Regions from separate parts of the Homo sapiens genome. Here region 1 is linked to region 2. Evidence: fine-mapped expression QTL. Tissue or cell type: skeletal muscle. Region 2 holds a variant in brackets; the other region holds the start of a gene. All regions are shown on one strand. Distances are between the middles of the regions.

The links. PIP is the estimated chance that this variant, and not a neighbour inherited with it, causes the effect.
Region 1: IGSF10 starts here. The variant in region 2 is fine-mapped to the expression of IGSF10 in skeletal muscle (FUSION, PIP 0.95).

What each region holds. Positions count from the first base shown.
Region 1 is chr3:151,456,720-151,464,950 of GRCh38, reverse strand. It overlaps IGSF10 (immunoglobulin superfamily member 10), which reads left to right and starts at 3,890. Exons shown (of 8, transcript NM_178822.5): 1 at 3,890-4,005; 2 at 4,604-4,690; 3 at 6,241-6,435; 4 at 7,796-7,925. The coding sequence starts at 6,242.
Region 2 is chr3:151,626,760-151,635,209 of GRCh38, reverse strand. All of the region lies in intron 1 of LINC02066 (long intergenic non-protein coding RNA 2066), which reads right to left. Among named protein-coding and RNA genes, the nearest start is that of MIR5186, 65 kb to the right of the region's middle. The variant A/T (reference allele first, on the strand shown) is at 4,095.

The DNA.
Region 1 (8,231 bases), 170 kb after region 2:
GTTAGAGATCTGGAATACTATATATAAAGTCTTCAAGTCATGTAGTTTGACTTTAGTTGGTTGAGTTGCAACTGTATTGGAAGAAAGATGATACTGATTTTCTTTCTACCTCCTTTTCCTGCATTATGTCTCTTCATGGCACTTATCACTTACCGTGCTAGTCTGTAACTTCAAAAAAGGAAGGGCTAAGATGTCAGTCTACTTCACTGCTATTGGAATCACTCAGTGGAGGTCTTGACTGTTTGGTTAATTGAATAATATGAAAATTGTGGAGCTGGGAGGTGGTAATGATTGTGCCTGATTAAAAGATATGTAACAATTTTGGCATTTGGTTATCTGTTGACACATATATAAGTCAGTTTTAAAATTCATAGCTTGTTCTGATTGTCAGGTGATCTATGACTTGTAACTGCTTGCGCTTGGTTGATTGGTGTTAAATAAATACTCTGATTAGGAGGGTGATGTAAAGGATGGTATGGATGATAAATTAAGGATGAGGAGTAAGAAGTAGTAATTACTAGAAAAGACAGCAAATAATGTCAAAGACCTAGAGATGAGGGGAAATGTAATTCTCAGGGGTGATATAAAAGGTGAAGAAGATGTATATTTATTGTCGTGTTTACTAGAAAAAATACAAAGCCTGAGAATTTACCAACAATACTGTTTAAGAAAAGAGTAACAAAAAGAGGGGGAGGATTTAAAGAAAATCATTAGGTAAAACTATAGTGAGAGGTAATTAAAATGTCAAACCATCCTTAAAGCGTAGGTAAATTACCGTAGTCCAGGAAACACAGGTTTAGGAGTTCAGATTGACAATTAACTCAGAGTCGCTATGCTCAGCTCTGAGATCTTGGCAAATTATACACTCAATTAACTTCTGCAAAATAAAGTTACAATTACAAAATAAAGTCATTATCATTGAATTTCATATATTTCTTATTAAATGAGGCCATGTTCAAAGGTGAAAGTGATTTGTAAACCATATGAATCTATAGAAACATATTGCATTATTAAGCATGGTTAGAAAAAAGAGTGGTGAAACTTTTCTTTGATATGCTGTGGACTCTCCAAATTTTATAAATAGAAGCAGGAAGAAGATAGAAAATATAAGGCTTTTTTTGTATTTTTGTAGAGACGGGGTTTCACCATGTTGACCAGGCTGGTCTCAAATTCCTGACCTCAGGTGATCCTCCCGCCTTGGCCTCCCAAAATGCTGGGATTACAGGTGTGAGCCACTGCGCCCAGCCATGGTGGCATGTGCCTGTAATCCCAGCTACTCAGGAGGCTGAGGCAGGAGAATTGCTTGAACCCAGAAAGTGGAGGTTGTGGTGAGCCGAGATTGCGCCATTGCACTCCAGCCTGGGCAACAAGAGCAAAACTCCGTCTCAGAAAAAAAAAAAAAAAAAAAAAAAAAAAAAAAAAAAAAACCAGAAAATGTAAGGCTTAAAAGCATTGGTTTTACAATTTTAAAATTAATTCAGTATTGTATTTTGGCTCTGAATCATTTAGCATTCTTTATCCTCAGCAATCTCATCTGAAAAACTGGTATAATTTTAGCACTTACTCATCAGAATATTTCTGAGAATTAAGCAATACATATAAAGGCTTTGACACATATATACTCTAACTATAAAAGTAATTACAAATATTAGAATTGTTATTAAGTGGAGCAAATGGAACTAGAATTGGTGCCAATATGACTCAGGTTTCTAATAATTCTGGAAGATGACATGAAAAGTAGAAAATACGTCAGAGAAGAGCTCTGACATAAAGCAATTGTAGAGATTTATCTCATAAAAATTCTTAAGAGAAGCAAACATTCCTATCAGGAGTTCACTTTGAAATTGATAGCAAGAAAATGACCCCAGGTAACAAGCCTAGGAAAATAAGTTTAACATGTTGCTGTCATCTTTCTGTGGTTCATCCTAGTTGAGGTCTGGAAGTCCAGACCTGGGTTAGAAATTGACTAAAGAATACGAAGCCATGAGGTTGGTCACCAAGGAGCTTTGGGAGAAAGATAAACTGTGGCTGCCAAAACCCGACAAATATGCCACATTTCCAAAGCAAGCATCCAAGTTTGGACATCACGTGAATTTTTAATTTAAAAGAATCTTGTCAGCTCTGCAGAGCTAAAGACCATGTTCATATACATGCTTCTAGGGTTACTTCTAACTCTGAGTCTCTGATTCTATAATTCTACTTTGGTAACTGACTTATTACTAACCATAAATCACATGAATGCTCGGCATGGGATATGGCACATTATCCATGTTTAGCTAAGTGAGGCAGCCACAACTTTATGGTTAAACGTTCAGACCATAGGGCAAGACTGCCTGAGTTTGAATTAACGGCTTTTCTACTCACAAGCCACATGGCCTGGAGTTCTGTCACTTTCCTTCATGTACCTTACTTGTAAAATGGGAATAACATAAATACTTTCCTTTTAGGCTTTTTGGTGCTATGGTGAGGCTGAAATGAGTTGGTATTTGTAAAACATTTTTCAGAAGTTATTTCACTAAACCAGCAATTCTCACATTGTAGCTGCATCAGAATCATATGGAAGGCTTGTTAACACATGGACTCCTAAGCCTCCTTCGTACAGTTTCTGAATCAGTGGGTCTGGGATGGATCCCGCAAATTTTTGATCTTAACGAAGTCCAAAGTAATGCTGATGCTGGACCCGTGACCCTATCTTGAGATCCACTGCCCTAAAACATTCATTGCAAATTGTCATCAAAAGCTTAAGTGCTATGTAACTACGTGGAAGGAAACAAGGTCATTTTAGTTATGTTAACTCAGTGTTTATGAGTATTGGGAGCCCCACCAAGAATTGCAGGAGATATTACATGTGGGCAAGTTGGTAGAGGTGATTCTGGAGGCATCTCTGCCTCCAGATGGTAGGGTTGGAGATGAGAAAGGAGAATGTAATCCAAGCAGAAATAGTAGTATTTAAATCCGGTTCTGTGATAATGATTTAAAAGAATTCCTCTGAGACATCTATATACGATGTAATATTGTTTGGCAGTTAAAAAACAAAAGGGAAATATTGCCATTTGTCACACATGGATGAACCTGGAGGACATTATGCCAAGTGAAATAAGCCAGAAACCAAAAGAAAAATAGTGTATGATCTCACTTATATATGTGAAATCTTTTTCTAAAAGGTCGATTATACAGAGATAGAGAATTAAATAGTGGTTATAGGGGTTGGAGAAAGGAAATGGAAAAATGTAGATCAGAGAATACACAGTAGCATACATTTATATAGATCTAATGTGCAAGAGGACTATAGTTAATAAAATTGTATGGTATTTGGGATTCTTGCTAAAAGAGTAGATTTTAGCTGCTCGTGTCACAAAAACAAAAATGGGGTAACTATGTGAGATGATGGATATGTTGTTTCACTATAGTAACCATTTTACTATCTGTATATAGCCCATAACATGTTGTATACCTTAAATATACGCAATATAATTTACTTATTTTTAAAAGAGGGGTTTAAATAAAACATTGACACTGCAGGTATCACAGGTCATTAACGCTAACTTAGCCTTCAAATAGAACTTTGGGAGCCACAGGACCAAGGACAGCCTGCGGCGATTTACGTAAACCCTTAAACCAAAAGGCCCACCTGTCAACAGGTGGAAGAGGTCAAGGAGGAAATGAACGGGCGGCCACTGAAACTGCTCTGCCACCCAGCCAGGACCTGCCAACTTGCTAGGAGAAAGCCCTGGGAATTTAAAGAGTGAAGCCACGGCGAATTAGCTTCCCACACGCTCGTAAACATAAAGAGGGGCCCGGTGGTCGTTTCTCATCCTTGTGCTGCTGAGCCCCGGCCGCGTCCCCAGACACAGAAGTCGGGCTCATCCCCCGCCCTCGCTCCGCCTTCCTTCCTTCCCTCCCAGAGCTCCGGACCAGCTCCGCACGACCCCAGCAGCTGAGCCCGGGACCGAGCCCGGGACCTAGCCCGGGCAGCTCGAGCCCATTGGTCACCAGGGCAAACAGGTGAGCGCCTCGGCCAATCCTTCCCCGGAAAGGGCTGGAACCCCACGCCGGCTGGGGCTTGGCGTGGGAATGGAGCGAGTACCGTGGCTGCAGAAGCGGGCGCTGGGGCGGGGAGGGCTGAGGGTGGGGGAGGGAAGACGCACCCGGAGAAGGTGGGGGCATGAAAGCACACGACAATTCTTCGGTGACTGGTGCCAGGCAAAAAAAAAAAACACACACTGAGGAAAGACAATCAATAGATGGAGACATCTGTGACAGATTTGTCCAAAAAAGACAATTTGAGGAGAAGCTCTTGGGACTTTGGAGCAAAATGGAGTGATTAGTAGTAGTTAATATTCAAGTGATAACTTTAAGGAGTATTAAGTACACTACTGAGGGAGGAGAAAGGAAATTTAAAAACCTCCACTTAGCCTTTTGTTTCTGCAACAGCAAGCATCATAATAAAAGAACGCTTCTGGGTTAATGTGGTTATGAGTTATAGAACTTTGAAGCTGTGGAAGCGGCTCCAGGTCTCCCTGAAGAGCATTACTCCTGGCTGTAAGCCAAAAAGAATAAGGCTTTTTGCTCACTTTGGAGCAGAGAACTTTTCCTCCCTCAGGTTTGGACACAATTTTCCATTTCCTGGGAAGATTTTCTGTCTCTGCCTATGTCACAAGAGGACTCAGGACCTGAAAGAAGAGCTCAGGTATTGCCAATTCCTATTTCATTATGTACATTTTCAGCCTTACGTTTGTGAGAATCCCTTATTCATGTGTTGTCTTATGCTATTGATCCTCTTTTAAATAATTTGAACGTGGGCATACCCAGAACTTTTATTTAAGCTGAACGAGAGAATTACCTTCATCCTGCTGTTCCTTCCTTTGTTTATCTAATGATAAGGTGGAAATGCTGTCTCCAATCATACAAAGCTTATTTAAAATTATTGTAACCAGGTGGTTACGATGGCAAAAGTGGTCATATGATTAATCCTATCTTAAATTTTAATTTGGACTAAATTATAATAATACATCCATCATCTTTTTATCTGTATGAAAATCCAAGCAGTTCAGCCCCAGTGTTATTTCTCAGTGTAGTTTGTAGCTAAAGGGTGGTTGCTGGTGGAATCCAACATCATGCTGTTCCACAGAACGGTGGGATTTATTACAAATTATGAAGGTCATTTTGCTTGGAAAAGCACAATAAAGAGTTTATTTCAATCCTGCATTTCAGGAGAGAATTAGGTTTGAATTCCTGGGCTTGCCCCACATATGGGTAACAGATACCATTTTTTTTTTTCTGACAAGCTGAGCATATTTCTTCCCTGGTTATGCTCCCCACCTCCTGTGGCAGCCATGAGCTGGAGGAGGGACCAAGGAAAAAGGCAGAGAGATGTCCGAAGCTGAGCAAAAGCAGACAGCATCATGCCTGCACAGGGTCAGCATGGCTCAAGCCCTCTCAGCTGGTCAGTCGCTGTTGCTTATGGTCATTACTTGGCAGTGAAGTGTTCAATGTGTCTTTTTTTTTGGCAGGGACTTGAAAACCGGTTAGAAAGAGATTTATTCTCCCTTCCAGTGGATTATTACAACCTTTAAAAAATGTTTCTGAAGAAGGTTTAATAAAATGAAAAAACATTATATATGAAATGATAAAATGTGTTACAAAATTGAGTTTGATCACATGTACACATATACACGTAAATGTATGTACACCTATACATATACACACAATAGATGAAAAAGGCTGGAAAGGAATACAACAACATGTTTAAGGATTATATAAGTGGTGAGATTGAGTAATTTTTTTCCTTTTTACTGCTTAATTACAGTTTCCAAATGTTTTATTATGCACAGATATTACTGTTATAATCAGTTTCTTGAAAGTTACTCTAAAAGAATTAATGTATATAAAGGAAACTAAATTCTATATATTTTAGTTGTCACAATCTTTCTTATGGTTTCCAGTTTCCCTTTTAATGAATGCCTGAGTAATAGGGATTGCTGGTTTTCATAAAGAAGTGAGAAGCTGTGAAGAAATTTTCACAACAGTAAATATCCCACTTGATCATAAAGCGCAGTGTGAGGCCAGCAGCACACACTATAGTTTTGTAAAGAGTGCATATGACCACAAAGGGTAGGAATGGAATTGACCACTTACGACCCTTAAAGAAGGTCTCCCAGATTCCCAGAGTGAGTGTGTGGTGGTCCTGGGACTTTGCTCCACCACTCTTTATAACTCTGAGGTATGATGTTTTTTCAGGATGAAGGTAAAAGGCAGAGGAATCACCTGCTTGCTGGTCTCCTTTGCTGTGATCTGCCTGGTCGCCACCCCTGGGGGCAAGGCCTGTCCTCGCCGCTGTGCCTGTTATATGCCTACGGAGGTACACTGCACATTTCGGTACCTGACTTCCATCCCAGACAGCATCCCGCCCAATGTGGAACGCATCAATTTAGGGTGTGTGAGACCTCATGTTTCCTCTTCTCAAAGAGGGATCAGTCGCAGCAGTGACTTGTCCCTCAAACATCTATGACTTTGGGAGATGAATCTCAATTGTTTTAACAATATTTCTTTTCTGAAATGAGCTCATGAGAATTTTGTTTGTTGGGGGCAATAAGAAAACTTTTCCTGGTAAACTTTTATTAGGAGAAAGTTCTTCTAGAATTTGAAGTCCCTCTTGGTAGGTTGGGAGACTCATGACGGTAAAAAGCTTCTTTCTGGCTACATTTTTGCTGGAAAATGATATAGTTTCTGTTAACTATTGGGGTTATGATCATTCATCATAAGAGATGACAGGGTAACTGGAAGTGTCTGCCTATATAATACACACACACACACACATACATACATATATATATATATGTATCCTTTTTATAGGCCCTTTGGTTTCTTTCCATACAAACTTATTTAAAATGGATGCCTAATTAAATTTTTAAAAATATGACTGTATTTTAAACGTTCATGAAAAAAAAGTCTGTGTGTGTCTGAATACACATGTTGGACTTAGCATCGTTTATTTGACATTAGTGAGCATGTACTATGCACTGGGGATACAATGGTAAGATATACTATTCACTTCTAGGATGTGTATTGATCGTTAAAAAGACCAGACAAATGTACGGTCAGTACAATTAATAAAAACTAATAGAGCATACAAAGTGTTTTAGAGACAGTCACTAATATTAAGAGCTAACATTAAGGTTGTGCTCAGTAGGTGCTGGCATTGGGTTAAGCACTGCATCCATTTAATCCTCATAACCCCTTTGGAGTGAGTTCTATTATTTACATTTTATAGATGAGGAAACTGAGGCACAGAAAGCCTGCTGATTTTACCCAGGGTTGTACCACTACTCTGTTGAGCCTGAGCTCGTAATCATACCCAAACGAGACGCCCAAGCCTGGCCTCCAGAGCCCAGGCTTCTTAACCACTGCTGACGAATTCCACCTGGGGGAGTGGTGAGGAGATAGTGTCATGAAAGAATGGGCTAGATATTAAGTGTTCACAAATAGAAAAAGGTGAGGTCAAGGGCATTCCAACCTGAGGGAACAGCATATATATAAAAGTTTGAAAATGATAAGAAATGTGACAAGTTCCCAGAATATGAGGGGGGTGATTGTAACTGAAATGGCAAGAACTGGGTAGAGAGCCGACCTTCTGTGGCATCTGGTGAATTTCAGTTTTTGAAGCATTTGATTGTCTCAATAGAGTACAGTTATAAAGAGAGGTATTGAGTTTTCTTGTGTTTATTTTGGTTATGACATTTGAACTTTAGTTGACAGACTTAGCTTATGCCTAGAATGTCATTTTTTATTTCAGATACAACAGCTTGGTTAGATTGATGGAAACAGATTTTTCTGGCCTGACCAAACTGGAGTTACTCATGCTTCACAGCAATGGCATTCACACAATCCCTGACAAGACCTTCTCAGATTTGCAGGCCTTGCAGGTGAGACTGATGGAGAGAGGGGGCAGGTTAAAGAGGTAAGGTGGGACCTGTGAGATAGACCTTCAAAGGCTGCCTATCTCTACACAATACGAAAATCAACATTCTGTAAATTAGAAGCAGACGTCAATGGAGAATGTTAACTGATTTTTAACTGTGGAACTGTGTGTATAAATTAGAATAATAAGAACTCTGAGGCAAGTTTTCTACTACCTCAAGCTAATAGAAAAAAAATCAATACCCAGAGACGATAAACCTTCAAAATTTAATCCTAAAAGGACACTTCTAGTCATGTTTATCTGGGAATTG
Region 2 (8,450 bases):
TGTCACCTTTTCTGTGAGGTCTCTTCTGGCCACTATATTTAAAACTCCTATCTCTAAACCTTCTGGCACTCCATATGCCCCATGCCCTGACTTATTTTTCTGTTTGTACTTATCACCATCTGACATACCATATGAACACCTATGTTATATATATATACACACACACACACACACACATATATACACACACAAACATATACACACACACAGAGGTATATGCATATATGTGTAAATATATATATGATATACTATATTAGATATGTGTATAATTTATTGTATGTCTCTCCTCCAAGAGGACAGGGACTTTATTGGTTTTGTTCACTACTGGATCATCAGTGTCTAAAACCAGTCCTACAGTACATAGCAGGTACTCAAAAAAATACTTGTTGAGGCTGGGTGTGGTGGCTCACACTTGTAAACCCAGCACTTTGGGAGGCCGAGGTGGCCAGATCACCTGAGGTCAGGAGTTTGAGACCAGGCTGGCCAACATGGTGAAACCCCGTCTTCACTAAAAGTACAAAAATTAGCCGGGTGTGGTGGCAGGTGCCTGTAATCCCAGCTACTCAGGATGCTGAGGCAGGAGAATTGCTTGAACCCGGGAGACGGAGGTTGCAGTGAGCCGAGATCTCACCATTGCACTCCAGCCTGGGGAACAAGAGCGAGACTTTGTCTGAAAAAAATATATATACATATATATATATATTTGTTCAATAAGTTGAATGAGTTAATGTTTTTGTATAGTTTTCAAGTTTCCTAAAACAAACATCATTTTTATAATCGGAAACAAATAGTATAAGGTTACTTTTAGTGGCATTACTTTTAATGGCAAAAACCACAATTACTTTTGCACCAACCTAATACTTTCTATATAGAAGAATTTGCCCAAATGCAACAAGTTGTTTATAGACCCAAACAACTCAGGCAGACCCCACCCACGTCCCTGGCTGAGGTATGAGTAGCTAGCAATAGCTAAACTTACTAAGCATTACTATGCTGGACACTTTATAAATTAGCTCATATAATTTTTGCAACTTTGTAAGACATAACCCCCATTTTATCTATAAAGAAACTGAGGTTCAGTTAAATAACTTTTTCAAGATCACAAAGTTTATAACTGGAATTGTGATTATGAATCCAGACAGCAGTACTGCCCTGAGATCTGGGTAAGGAGGGCCCCTGTTTGAGACTTCGTATTTTTGTATGACTTCCTCAGCATTTTCTAAGTACCCTCAGTTGCCTGAACTCAATCAGGTCTACCAATGCTGTCTGGGCATGATGTCCTGATCTTAAACCCCATTTCTTCTCTTCCAAATGCTCTGCAACCCTCTCCTCTGCACAAGATCCTGAAGAGCATCAGAACTCATGCTAATAGGCTCCAGGAGAATGGTTCAGATGCAGGTTCCAGGACAGTGGCCTGACAAGTGGATCACTCCTGCTGACTCTTGCAGTATTTCTTTCATGGGATTATGTGAGATGGGACCATCAGAATGGCTAACTTGGGTGGCTCTTACCCCAGTGAAAAGATAAGTTCTGGGCTCCAAGCTACTGAGGACCATTGCTGGTACTTGGGTTTGAGCCAGATGTGTGGTCCCATGCATCAGCTCTTGCCTATCTGTATCTCAACCCTGATGCCACATACTGTCTATAGCACCTAAGGATGGTGGGAACAGTGATCTCTCAGCTTATGTGTCCCTCACCCACTGGCACTCAAAGCAGTCATTCCACCTATCTTCAGGGTCCATACCCTGCATCCAGCAGTGCTCTGGAGAATCTGTTGCTCTGCAAAGCCAATGGACCTTTCTCATCATTGTCTTCTCTTGGCTGATTGGTACAATGATAGAGGTCTCTCCTGGGTCAGTTTTAATCCATGACAGATGAGAAATGGTCATTTCTTGTGCAAATGGGACTGCTCTTTTTGCTCTGCCCTTGGGCTCTCACATCTTCTCCCCAAGAGCGGCAGTGAATGGAAGGCACAGGTGGGAGCCACATAGAAAGGGATCACATTCTCAGAATCCATCATTACAATTTAACAAGTTAAAGAGAAAACATGGCTGGTTGTTGCATTGCTCTAGTTTATGCTCTAACATTCCAGTCTGTAAACTTAACATGAATAGCAAATGAATTATTGTTCTCCATTTTTTCTGAATACTCTGCATAAAACTTGCATTTGTAGTCATCACAAGTACATATGTGGCACTTAACTCGGCACAATAATAACCTTTGAGTGTCATTGGAAGCCAGTATTCATGGGGTCACAATGAATAATGCAGCATCACGAGTAATGGTGTAACCAGCAATTAAATAAATGATATTAGGAAACTGCAAAATCAAGATAATCTCTGTTGCTTCAACACAAACAGGTTCCAGTGAGCCATGGCATTGTCCGTAACATCATTGCTCTCTTTTCATTGTGATGAGAAAATAAACACGAAGAGATATTTTCCAGAACACAATTGGCAGAGATGGTGCCAGAACACAACAAAAAACTTTCTGAGGCCAACCTTCTATTTAATATCCAAATAAACTATCAGCACAATCTATCCAACTTTTATTTTTGTCATCAGTCACAGTTCTCTACTATATTTGTAAAAGGATGCTTTATCTTGGCATAGCTGCAGCCCATTTCTGTGTTAAGATTTTTACATTACATAGTATTATTGCTATTTTCTCACACTGTGTACCTTCCTGTGCAAATCTCCCTCCCAAACGCTGACAATCAGCAGCTTATCTTCTTGATACCTAGATTCCTACTGGCCAACACCTCTCAATTCCTCTCTCAGCTACTTTTGTTTTCCTTTGTCCTACACTGTTTACCAACCCTTTCTCTTCCTCATTTTCTCCTTCTGCAAATAAAAACCTAAAAAAGAAACAGAAATTCCTTACTTTCTATCCTCCCTAATCTAGTGTTTCTCAATGCATGATCTTCTGATGCTCTTAATTAAAATCACTAGAGGGCTTTTAAAAACACTATACAGGTTCCCAGGCCCCACCTAGATCAACTGAATCATGTCTTTGGGAATATGGCCCGGGTCACCCATGTTTAATCAATCAGGTTGATTCATTCACAGGCTAAAGCTTGAGATCACCAACTTAACCACAAGGAAAAAAGAAAAACAAAACAATAACAACAAAAAAATTGCACCACTGTTGTCAAGCTTCATGATTTATAGAGTCAAGTACAAAAGCATATTGTACAGACTGATGACACAATGTACAACTGTGCTAGATACAGTGTCGTACATATGCTGTGATGTTAGAATATGAGGTACAGGCTTGCACACATTGCCCTTCAACCTGGAACCTCTTTTGCTCACTTATCTCATTTCTATGTCTTTCAAAACCAGATTTCTCCATGAAGCCTTCCCTGGCTCCTCCTGCCTCTCCTTTCAAAAGCCAGGTTCACATGTTGTTCACACCTCTCTTTATATTAATGATCAGACTGTATTTCTCATTGTTTCTTCATGGGGCTGTCTCCTCCTTCAAAGTATGAAGTTCATCAGAGCTATCTGTTTATCTCCAACAATTTATGAATATATGTGTCCCTATGCTATATGGCAAGTGCACAATAAATAGTTGTTGAATTAATGAACTATAAAAAACTAGAAGAACAAGAACCCATCCAAGTGATTTTGCAAAGTTTAAAATGAGACACTATAAATTATCTAGGTGAGTGCTGCATTAGAAATGAAATATATTATTCAAGTTCTACTCTCAGATTTTATTGATTTCCTTATGGAAAACATGTGCTGTGTTCAAAGTCAAAGAAGCTTTAATGCAAGTCAGATCTTCCTTCGTAATCCTTTGGAAATAGCCTTTGACAATGAGGAGAGAGTGAAATGTGACTTGTCACATTATAAATAAGGCTAAAAATACACACTTGATGTCATCTAGTGTTTGGTGTTCCAAGAACCAAAACTAGTCATTGCAACATTTCAGCTTAACATCTGCTCTTTCAACCTGTTCAGCTGGTTGTTTGTAAAACATTCCAGCTTATCTCTTCAAAGTAATGTGAGTGGGAGTAGGAACCCTTTGTTGAGAACATTTTTTAAGTAAGATTCTAGAGGGCCAGTTATTTGTGGAAACCAGCTGATGGA[A/T]GGGGGCAGCTGGAGGAGCCAGAGATAGGTGAAGAGAATAATTTGATCCTCCTGTGACTTTTCCTAGTGCTGACTTCCATCTTCCCAGCTGAGAACTCCTGTGATAGCTTCCTGTCTATCCCCCCACCTCCACCACTGGCTCATTCCTCCCTGCAGTCTAGTCTCTCCCCAAGCCCCACCACAGCAGACAACTTCAGCTGAAGAACATTTTGGTTTGAACTGTCCTAAAAATGGAGACACCCCTTTCTTGGATTTCTTTAATTGATATATCATACTTGTATGTATTTGGAGTTACATGTTATATTTTGATACATGTATACAACATGCAATGATTAAATCATGGTAATTGGATATCTGTCATCTCAAACATTTATCTTTTATCTTTTCTTTGTGTTGGGAACATTACACTTCTTCTCTTTTAGCTATTTTGAAATATAAATAAGTTATTATTAACTATAATTTCCCTTCTGTACTATTAAATACTAGAACGTATTCCTTCTATCTAACTGAATTTTTGTACCCATTAACCCAATTCTAAACATTCTACAACTATAAATCACTGGCAAGGAAAAAATGATAAATCAAAACAAAACATCAGAACTTAAAAACAGCTGGATTTTCTTCCAGGTGGAGTTGATGCCCTCTGAATTTTCTTGTAAGTTGTATACTTTCTTCAGAGAAGATCAGAATATTATCCTCTAGGATTAGGGTAACCTTTTATAGGAAGAACTGACACTCTCCAAATTCTCCCTCAACCAGCTTCTTAGTGCCCCACATTCCACAATTAGATGCTCATTTGTTGGTTTAAAACTTCTGTAGCTTTGCTTGTTTACTTTTCACTCCCTCATCGTGTTTATACATCATGACCTTAACATGGATACCTCAGAGTGGAAATATTTGTCAGATCTATTTCTAAGACCAAAAGACATTGGGGAGGATGCTGTTGTGAGGGTGGGGGTTGGGGAGTAACTGGGAGTTCCAGGGCCCACTTGGGCTGCCAGGAGGGAGGGAATCACAGGACGTCTTCAGGCCTATCTCATTTTCTTCACAATTTCCCCTGCCCCGTCCTACTCAGAATGTGAAAAAGCACAGCTTTTTGCCATATGTTCTTTGATTCCCCTGGTTAGCAATAGTCCTGAAATATCAAAATGCTTTTGCTATTTAAGACCTTAATGCTCTTTAAAGACTTTTTTATTAACTGTAGCACGTAAGTCCAAGTTACGGCAAGAGACTTAAAGTTGTTCGAGGCATTGCCAGTAATTCAGGACAGGATCACAAAAGCAATAAAAATGGGAGAAAGAAAAAGATGATGATGCATTGCTGATGCAGTACCTGAGATTTTCATGTCACAGGCTGAACATAGGTACAAGTTTTCCCACAGAAATAAATTCTACCAACTGTTATGTATCCGCAGCAGAGAAGGAAGGTATGATTCAGAAATTAATTTCTATCAAATTGTTTATAGCTCTATTTTGATTATCCACACTTTCATATTTGTAATATTATGTTAACAGAAAAGTAATCGCGGTTTTTGCCATTACTTTCAATGGCAAAAACCGCGATTACTTTTGCACCAACCTAATAGCTGAAAAAGAGTTAGCAAATAAAAACCTGAAAATGTACTATGCAGCCCTTTCTAAAACCTTTCCACAGCTCATCCTTTCTTCCAGCCATTAGGTCCAGCACCAAATTCTTTCCTTCTGCCTCTCCATTACCAGGACTAGTTAGTGCTTTAATGTTCCTTATTATTCACGAATTATCTGACCAAAATAACCCAGTCATTGTTAAAATTAATTCCTCTGAAACGGTTTAAAAATACGGCACATAAAATTTAATTAGGCTAATAAATACTTGGAATATTGTTAAGATATTACAAATGAAGGATACAGGAACTTATGGTCTAGTGGGGAATTTACAGTCTAGATCAAAACTATAGCCGCCAAGGAAGAAGACAAAGCAAATGCAGCTTTGCCATTGAAGAGGCACAGAGCGCTGTTGGAGCACCAAGGAGAGAGATATTATTTCTGTCTGAAAGGAGAAGGGAAATGCTCATAAAGGAGGAAGATGGTAGCTAATTGAGATAACCACCGATTTGTGAACACCACTTCTTTGAATGATCATTATGAAAAATATCTATGAACTAGATTCTTCTCTACATAGAAGTTTGAACAAAGCATTAAATGTTGAAGGCAGGAAGTTACCTAAACTACTAAATAAAAATAATTTATTTTTGTTATACCCTGACGTCTGTTAATAACAGATAACACTTCCTTGAAAGTCAGAGTTTCAGTTAAATACTGGGTAGAGAGTGAATTAAAAAGCAATAAACAAGTAACCCTTGTATACTTACATAACATCGTCTTTAAAAAGAGTATCCAGTATCAAAGTCAAGTGCCAAGGCTAAGGGAGGCAGCCTGGTGCCCTGGAAAGGGCATACATAGGCTTTGCCTATGGAGAGACCTATGTTCAATTGCCGGCTCTACCATTTGTTAGCTCTGCATGCTTTGATTTGGGCACTTTATCTTTTTCTCAAAGTTTTCAATTCTTTTCCTATAAAAGAGAAATGTTTTTAGATCTTACTAATGCACACACCTAGAAACTTAAATTCAGTGTCTGAAAAAAAATCACGGTTTAGCCTAATAATTTTGTTAATTTATTTCATTTTCTTGAATTGTGGTGTCTGATGCCAACCTTTGGAAGGCTAAGGCGGGAGGACTGCTTGAGCCCAGGAGTTCAAGACCAGCCTGGGCAACATAGTGGGATCCTGTCTCTACAAAAAAAACAAAAAATTAGCGGGAGTGGTGGCATGTACCTGTAGTACCAGCTACTAGGGAGGCTGACGTGGGAGGATTGCTAGAGTTCAGCAGGTCGAGGCTGCAGTGAGCCGATTACAGCACTGTACTCCAGCCTGGGAGACACGAGATCTTGTCTCAAAATAAAATAAAATAAAATAATTTAAAAATTTAAACAAATCACTCTCTCCCTTTCTCTCTTCCTTGCTTCCTTATCTCCCCTCCCTACTCTCTCATTGTATTATATATGCTGCAATTCTATCCACAGGTAGACTAGCTTGTAATCCTACTTACTGAAAATTTTACTAATAAATTTCTCACATAATAATAAAAATAAGGATAATAAAGAACACCAAAGAATTAATACTATCCCCGGTAATGAAGAGACAGAAGGAAGCAATCCATGTCCCATCTGAGGGTTTGAGGAAAGAAGAGGAGGTATGGAAGCCTTCAGATGGGGCAGCAAGGTACATTTTTCACAGATCCTCTAAGGTTTTTAAGAGGACATATTTTCCCTAGAGATTCTCCAAGACACACCTGCCAAATACAAATTTCAAATTGCTCTCTATATGCTAGTGTTCCTGATTTGTATGGCTGATAATTGCCTTTTAAAGGGGCTTCATATTTAGGATCACACCTTACCTTCTCCACACCATGACGAACCTGGGGCAGTAAATATCACCACCCCATGTAGCATTTCATCAGCACACAATATCCATCCTACGCTGAGTTTTCCTTGGTGCCCAGCTAACTAGTGTTAGAGCCCAGCCTTAACTCAGATGTTGAGTAATTCCAATTGCTAGGCATTCTGACCTCAAGCTTGTGGGGTGCCCTTCCTGATCTTTCTTAATAATGACAATATCACCTACCTTGTCCCAGACAAAATGCCAAGTGCTTAGCATGCACTCTTGATTACCTGTAACCTCAATGCACATTAGGAAAGACTGTGCTTGCTTTACAGATGAAGAAATGATGAGGCTCAGATCGGTTAAGAAACTCACCTTAGATTGGGTGTGATGGCTTATGCCTGTAATCCCAGCATTTGGGGAAGCCAAGGCAGAAGGATAGCTTGAGGCCAGGAGTTTGAGGCCAGGAGTTTGAGACTAGCCCAGGCAACACAGTGAGACCCTCTACAAAAAATAAATTTAAAAAATTAGCCAGGCATGATGGTGTGCCTGTAAGTCCCATCTACTTGAGAGGCTGAGTAGGGAGGATTGCTTGAGCCCAAGAGTTTGAGGCTTCAGGGAGTCATGATCATACCACTGCACTCCAGTGAGAGAAATTTGCCTTAAATCACATCGTTAGTGAATTCCAGAAGCAAAGTGCAAACCCAGGCACATTCTACATATTTCCCAAATGTCTTTTTCAAATCAATGTCACTGCAAAATAAGAAAAAATAAAAAACTAATGTCACTGCAACCTTCCTTTCCATTGAACTTCCATTGCTTTCTGTCTGAGTCTTATTTAGAAGGAAGTCTGCAAACTTCTTCCCTTCTCCACTCACCATTTCACTGTAAGGTCTTTATGACCAATAAATGACTTGCTGTATTTTTCCTACAATGCC